Linked DNA regions of Homo sapiens. The protein of the gene in region 1 interacts with the protein of each later gene in a pairwise test. Each region holds a gene or a part of one and is shown on either strand. Other genes may lie near its edges. The genes, in order: TLR8 and BTK.

Evidence for each region.
Region 2: the proteins of TLR8 (region 1) and BTK interact in a two-hybrid assay, tested with the Homo sapiens proteins (one study listed by BioGRID).

Annotation. Positions count from the first base shown.
Region 1 is NC_000023.11:12,919,962-12,923,788, forward strand, and holds the end of TLR8 (toll-like receptor 8 isoform 2 precursor), read left to right. Parts: coding exon 1-2,205; 3' UTR 2,206-3,208; downstream 3,209-3,827.
Region 2 is NC_000023.11:101,352,048-101,355,495, forward strand, and holds part of BTK (tyrosine-protein kinase BTK), read right to left. Parts: intron 2,648-3,448; coding exon 2,583-2,647; intron 1,942-2,582; coding exon 1,823-1,941; intron 1,305-1,822; coding exon 1,147-1,304; intron 1-1,146. UniProt on the Homo sapiens protein: Non-receptor tyrosine kinase indispensable for B lymphocyte development, differentiation and signaling. Binding of antigen to the B-cell antigen receptor (BCR) triggers signaling that ultimately leads to B-cell activation.

The DNA.
Region 1 (3,827 bases):
AAAAATATGCCTCATCTGAAGGTGCTGGATCTTGAATTCAACTATTTAGTGGGAGAAATAGCCTCTGGGGCATTTTTAACGATGCTGCCCCGCTTAGAAATACTTGACTTGTCTTTTAACTATATAAAGGGGAGTTATCCACAGCATATTAATATTTCCAGAAACTTCTCTAAACTTTTGTCTCTACGGGCATTGCATTTAAGAGGTTATGTGTTCCAGGAACTCAGAGAAGATGATTTCCAGCCCCTGATGCAGCTTCCAAACTTATCGACTATCAACTTGGGTATTAATTTTATTAAGCAAATCGATTTCAAACTTTTCCAAAATTTCTCCAATCTGGAAATTATTTACTTGTCAGAAAACAGAATATCACCGTTGGTAAAAGATACCCGGCAGAGTTATGCAAATAGTTCCTCTTTTCAACGTCATATCCGGAAACGACGCTCAACAGATTTTGAGTTTGACCCACATTCGAACTTTTATCATTTCACCCGTCCTTTAATAAAGCCACAATGTGCTGCTTATGGAAAAGCCTTAGATTTAAGCCTCAACAGTATTTTCTTCATTGGGCCAAACCAATTTGAAAATCTTCCTGACATTGCCTGTTTAAATCTGTCTGCAAATAGCAATGCTCAAGTGTTAAGTGGAACTGAATTTTCAGCCATTCCTCATGTCAAATATTTGGATTTGACAAACAATAGACTAGACTTTGATAATGCTAGTGCTCTTACTGAATTGTCCGACTTGGAAGTTCTAGATCTCAGCTATAATTCACACTATTTCAGAATAGCAGGCGTAACACATCATCTAGAATTTATTCAAAATTTCACAAATCTAAAAGTTTTAAACTTGAGCCACAACAACATTTATACTTTAACAGATAAGTATAACCTGGAAAGCAAGTCCCTGGTAGAATTAGTTTTCAGTGGCAATCGCCTTGACATTTTGTGGAATGATGATGACAACAGGTATATCTCCATTTTCAAAGGTCTCAAGAATCTGACACGTCTGGATTTATCCCTTAATAGGCTGAAGCACATCCCAAATGAAGCATTCCTTAATTTGCCAGCGAGTCTCACTGAACTACATATAAATGATAATATGTTAAAGTTTTTTAACTGGACATTACTCCAGCAGTTTCCTCGTCTCGAGTTGCTTGACTTACGTGGAAACAAACTACTCTTTTTAACTGATAGCCTATCTGACTTTACATCTTCCCTTCGGACACTGCTGCTGAGTCATAACAGGATTTCCCACCTACCCTCTGGCTTTCTTTCTGAAGTCAGTAGTCTGAAGCACCTCGATTTAAGTTCCAATCTGCTAAAAACAATCAACAAATCCGCACTTGAAACTAAGACCACCACCAAATTATCTATGTTGGAACTACACGGAAACCCCTTTGAATGCACCTGTGACATTGGAGATTTCCGAAGATGGATGGATGAACATCTGAATGTCAAAATTCCCAGACTGGTAGATGTCATTTGTGCCAGTCCTGGGGATCAAAGAGGGAAGAGTATTGTGAGTCTGGAGCTAACAACTTGTGTTTCAGATGTCACTGCAGTGATATTATTTTTCTTCACGTTCTTTATCACCACCATGGTTATGTTGGCTGCCCTGGCTCACCATTTGTTTTACTGGGATGTTTGGTTTATATATAATGTGTGTTTAGCTAAGGTAAAAGGCTACAGGTCTCTTTCCACATCCCAAACTTTCTATGATGCTTACATTTCTTATGACACCAAAGATGCCTCTGTTACTGACTGGGTGATAAATGAGCTGCGCTACCACCTTGAAGAGAGCCGAGACAAAAACGTTCTCCTTTGTCTAGAGGAGAGGGATTGGGACCCGGGATTGGCCATCATCGACAACCTCATGCAGAGCATCAACCAAAGCAAGAAAACAGTATTTGTTTTAACCAAAAAATATGCAAAAAGCTGGAACTTTAAAACAGCTTTTTACTTGGCTTTGCAGAGGCTAATGGATGAGAACATGGATGTGATTATATTTATCCTGCTGGAGCCAGTGTTACAGCATTCTCAGTATTTGAGGCTACGGCAGCGGATCTGTAAGAGCTCCATCCTCCAGTGGCCTGACAACCCGAAGGCAGAAGGCTTGTTTTGGCAAACTCTGAGAAATGTGGTCTTGACTGAAAATGATTCACGGTATAACAATATGTATGTCGATTCCATTAAGCAATACTAACTGACGTTAAGTCATGATTTCGCGCCATAATAAAGATGCAAAGGAATGACATTTCTGTATTAGTTATCTATTGCTATGTAACAAATTATCCCAAAACTTAGTGGTTTAAAACAACACATTTGCTGGCCCACAGTTTTTGAGGGTCAGGAGTCCAGGCCCAGCATAACTGGGTCCTCTGCTCAGGGTGTCTCAGAGGCTGCAATGTAGGTGTTCACCAGAGACATAGGCATCACTGGGGTCACACTCATGTGGTTGTTTTCTGGATTCAATTCCTCCTGGGCTATTGGCCAAAGGCTATACTCATGTAAGCCATGCGAGCCTCTCCCACAAGGCAGCTTGCTTCATCAGAGCTAGCAAAAAAGAGAGGTTGCTAGCAAGATGAAGTCACAATCTTTTGTAATCGAATCAAAAAAGTGATATCTCATCACTTTGGCCATATTCTATTTGTTAGAAGTAAACCACAGGTCCCACCAGCTCCATGGGAGTGACCACCTCAGTCCAGGGAAAACAGCTGAAGACCAAGATGGTGAGCTCTGATTGCTTCAGTTGGTCATCAACTATTTTCCCTTGACTGCTGTCCTGGGATGGCCTGCTATCTTGATGATAGATTGTGAATATCAGGAGGCAGGGATCACTGTGGACCATCTTAGCAGTTGACCTAACACATCTTCTTTTCAATATCTAAGAACTTTTGCCACTGTGACTAATGGTCCTAATATTAAGCTGTTGTTTATATTTATCATATATCTATGGCTACATGGTTATATTATGCTGTGGTTGCGTTCGGTTTTATTTACAGTTGCTTTTACAAATATTTGCTGTAACATTTGACTTCTAAGGTTTAGATGCCATTTAAGAACTGAGATGGATAGCTTTTAAAGCATCTTTTACTTCTTACCATTTTTTAAAAGTATGCAGCTAAATTCGAAGCTTTTGGTCTATATTGTTAATTGCCATTGCTGTAAATCTTAAAATGAATGAATAAAAATGTTTCATTTTACAAGAGGAGTGTATGATAAATATATCATAGAGAAATTGGTCTTTAATATAAAAGAAATTGCCATATACACTGAATTTTTTCAGAACTCTTTTTAAAAAACTATTTGGTAGAAATCAAAGGGGAAGCAGTTTTCATGACACTTTTACTTTAAGATACTTATTAATAGATAAATTCTATCTTGATTCCCTACTCAGAAGACATAAAGTCAGAATGCCTGGCTGTTGGTAGCCTTTGTGCAATTCCCCCAAATGAAACAACTTTGGCAACCCTTTCCACTTCTACTGTCCCCTTGGTTCCTCTGCATCAGTCCATAGCATCCTCTATCCAGTATGAATCTTGAGATATCTAATGAAATTTACCTGAGAATAACTAGAAATTATCCAAGCATAAGAAAAGGAAGTTGCTTCAGAATGAAAAGAAGATAAACCTCCAATATACCATCTTTCCTTTTTAGTTAAATCTTACAGCATGAGTTACCTTTTAATATGTGCTTCTAAGAAACTGACCAAAATAATGTGTCATAGTGTTATTTAATACGCACAAAGTGGAAAGCAGTGCAAGTTTGCCAAGGACAATTTAATTTTGTCACATTGCATGCTGTTTTGTGACCATGAAGAGTTTA
Region 2 (3,448 bases), about 88 Mb from region 1:
AGCTACTCGAGAGGCTGAGGCAGGAGAATGCTGTGAACCCAGGAGGCGGGGCTTGCGGTGAGCCGAGATCACGCCACTGCACTCCAGCCTGGGCGACAGAGAAAGACTCGGTCTCAAAAAAAAAAAAAAAAAAATCTCATTTAGGACCTCAGCCAGAAACGGTTGGCAGCTAATAAAGTAGAAGAAAGGGCCAATGACACACAAAGGAATGAACAAACTTTCATGACTTTTCTTTTGTAATGCCCATTCACTTGTCTGAATGCCTCTGGCTGCCTGCTTATGCTAGATGACATGGCCCCACAACACCTCACTCCCTAAAGCTGAGCTGGCATTGGAGTGTACTAATGACACTCTAGTGAGAATCGGAGTGGGCCTGGGAAAGCCTCTGGCCATCAGATGATCAAGTTGCAGGCCAAGGTCAGAGAATGTGTGCAAGGCCTGGCGTGGTGGTTGATGCCTCTAATCCCAGCACTTTGGGAGGCCGAGGTGGGCGGATCACTTGAGGCCAGGAGTTCGAGATCAGCCTGGTCAACATGGCGAAATGCCATCTCTACTAAAAATACAAAATTGGCCAGGCTCAGTGGCTCACGCCTGTAATCCCAGCACTTTGGGAGGCCGAGGTGGGTGGATCACCTGAGGTCAGGAGTTCAAGACCTGCCTGGCCAACATGGTGAAATGCTGTCTCTACTAAAAATGCAAAAATTAGCTGGGCACGGTGGCATGTGCCTGTAGTCCCAGCTACTCGGGAGGCTAAGGCAGGAGAATCACTTGAACCCAGGAGGCAGAGGTTGCAGTGAGCCAAAATCGTGCCACTGCACTCCAGCCTGGGTGACAGAGCAAGACTGTGTCACCAAAAAAAAAAAAAAAAATTAGCTTGGTGTGGTGGTGCACGCCTATAATCCCAGCTACTTGGGAGGCTGAGACATGAGAATCGCTTGAATCTGGGAGGCGAAGGTTGCAGTAAGCCAAGATCGCGCCACTGTACTCCAACCTGGGTGAAAGAGCGAGACCTTGTCTCAAATTAAAAAAAAAAAAAAAGGAAAAAAAAGAATGTGTGCAGCTATCAGTCTTTGGTGGCTGAATGGCCAGCTAAATGGGCAAGTAGATTCAAGGAAATAATTTAAGAGATCCTAATAAAGCACTTACCTCATGCCAGCAACTGTACATGATGGTATATACCTTCTCTGAAGCCAGATGAGGCCTGTAGAGACGTAGGCCTTGGGCAATGTGTTCAGCAGTCTCACTGTTAGTAAATCTCTCATATGGCATCTTCCCCAGGGAGTAAATTTCCCACATCAAAACCCCTAGAAGGTGAAAAAAATTATTAAATTGGTTTGCAGTCTTTTTGGATAGCAGGGGTCCTAGTCTTCCTAGATCAACCTCAAAGATTAGAATCAGTTGGTTCCCCGCTCTGTGCTTTTTATATTTTGCCCAAATTTCTGCTATAGTACTGACCACACTAGATGGAGATCAAGGTCGTACTAGACTATTAACTCCTCTAGAAGAGAGACAGCATCTTATTTGTCTTTGCAGTTATAGGGTCTGGCAGAGTGCCTGGTACATAATCAGTATTCAGAAGCTGTTGAAAACTGAATGAATTGTTTTCCTTAACATGGTTTAAGTTCTAAAAAGGCAGAGATCATGTCCAGTTTAGTTTTCATCCTCAGAAACCCCTGTGGTGGCTGACACACAGTAAGCACTCCCCAAGGATTGGAAGAATGAAAGCAAGAACAATATCTCTGTGGAGGTTGCAAAGTGTGAATTTTCCCATTGCATTTCTTATCCTTTGAGCTGTATAATCTGTGTAATCTTATCCACTTACCAAAAGCCCAAATGTCAGATTTGCTGCTGAACTTGCTATACATCAGGACTTCCGGTGGGGACCACCGGACTGGAAATTTGGAGCCTACTGAGCTTGTGTATTCATCATCCAGGACATACCTGCAAGGGATTCAGGACTTGTTGCATTAGGATTTGGAGGCTTGATATTTGCTTACGTTTTCTTGGCACGGTCACAAGAGTGTCACAAACACACACAGGCTTTCTCAAAAGTCTCTCCTCCTCAACTAGTATCTTCTACAAACGTTACTTTTAACGAATTTCCTGTTTTTGTATCTGATTGAGCTTTCCTGATTGACAATATGGTTACAAGAAGGATGAAGTGAAATAAGATCTAGTAGGTACTCCCTTCCTCTTCTCTATCCACCTTTCCTTTCTCTGCTCTTCTCCTTCCCTTCCTTTTATCTGCAGTTGTCACTGGGAATTAGACTGATTAAGAAAGAAGGAGGAATGGAGTAAAGTCATCAGGATTAATAGATCAAGATAAGGTATTGGGGAAATAGATTTAAAAAAGAGGAGGTAGAGATAAAGGGAGAAAGGAAGGAAAGGGATATGACAATAAAACAAAAGGATGAAAGAGGTGGCTTAAATAACTCAGAGGAAGAAAAAGAATAGAAAGATCGGCAGAAAACGCTAGAATGAGAAAAAAAAGAAAAGGAGAGGATTAAAACTGTAACACCTACCCATGTTTCATACTGTGCTATTTTTACTTCTGGAGGGAAAGATGAAAAAGCCACACTCACCTGGACAGGCCGAAATCAGATACTTTAACAACTCCTTGATCGTTTACCAAACAGTTTCGAGCTGCCTGTAGTGCAAACAGAGACCAGTGAGACTCCGTCCCCAGCACAGAGGTTAAAGGCACAAAGCTTCTGCTGACCAGTAGAATGAAGCCAGGGAAGCTTCATCTCCTTCGACTACAGACACCTTCCCACCTAATAGGAATCTGTTGATGCCACCAAGAAATTTTGATTCATTTCCACCACGTGGAAAGCAACCTGCTGTGTAGTCCTAGGTAAAGCACTGAGGACATACAGAACGATTGCATTCTCATGGGCAATTCCACACCACCCCATTCCCTCACTGATATGCTGAAAGAATTAAGGGAGAGGCTGGGTGCAGTGGCTCACGCCTGTAATCCCAACACTTTGGGAGGCCGAGGTGGGTGGATCACCTGAGGTCAAGAGTTCAAGACCAGCCTGGCCAACATGGCGATACCCCATCTACTAAAAATACAAAAATTAGCTGGGCGTGGTGTTGGGCGCCTGTGATCCCAGCTACTTGGGAGGCTGAGGCAGGAGAATTGCTTGAATCTGGGAGGCGGAGTTTGCAGTGAGCCGAGATGGTGCCATTGCACTCTAGCCTGGGCAACAGAGCGAGACTCCATCTCAAAACAAAACAAAACAAAACAAAACAAACAAAAAACAAAGAAGGGAGAATGAGAAGTAAGTTTTTTTGCTTTCTGCTTTTCTGCCAGTGAGACTAGGACAATTTGAGCCTTGGCCTGACTGAAAGAAACAGGGGCGCAAACTCTGATGCTTACAGGGGCCAGGCAAGTTAAGTAAGAGTGAAGTGAAGTGGATCGAGATTGCAGGAAATGGAGAGTACA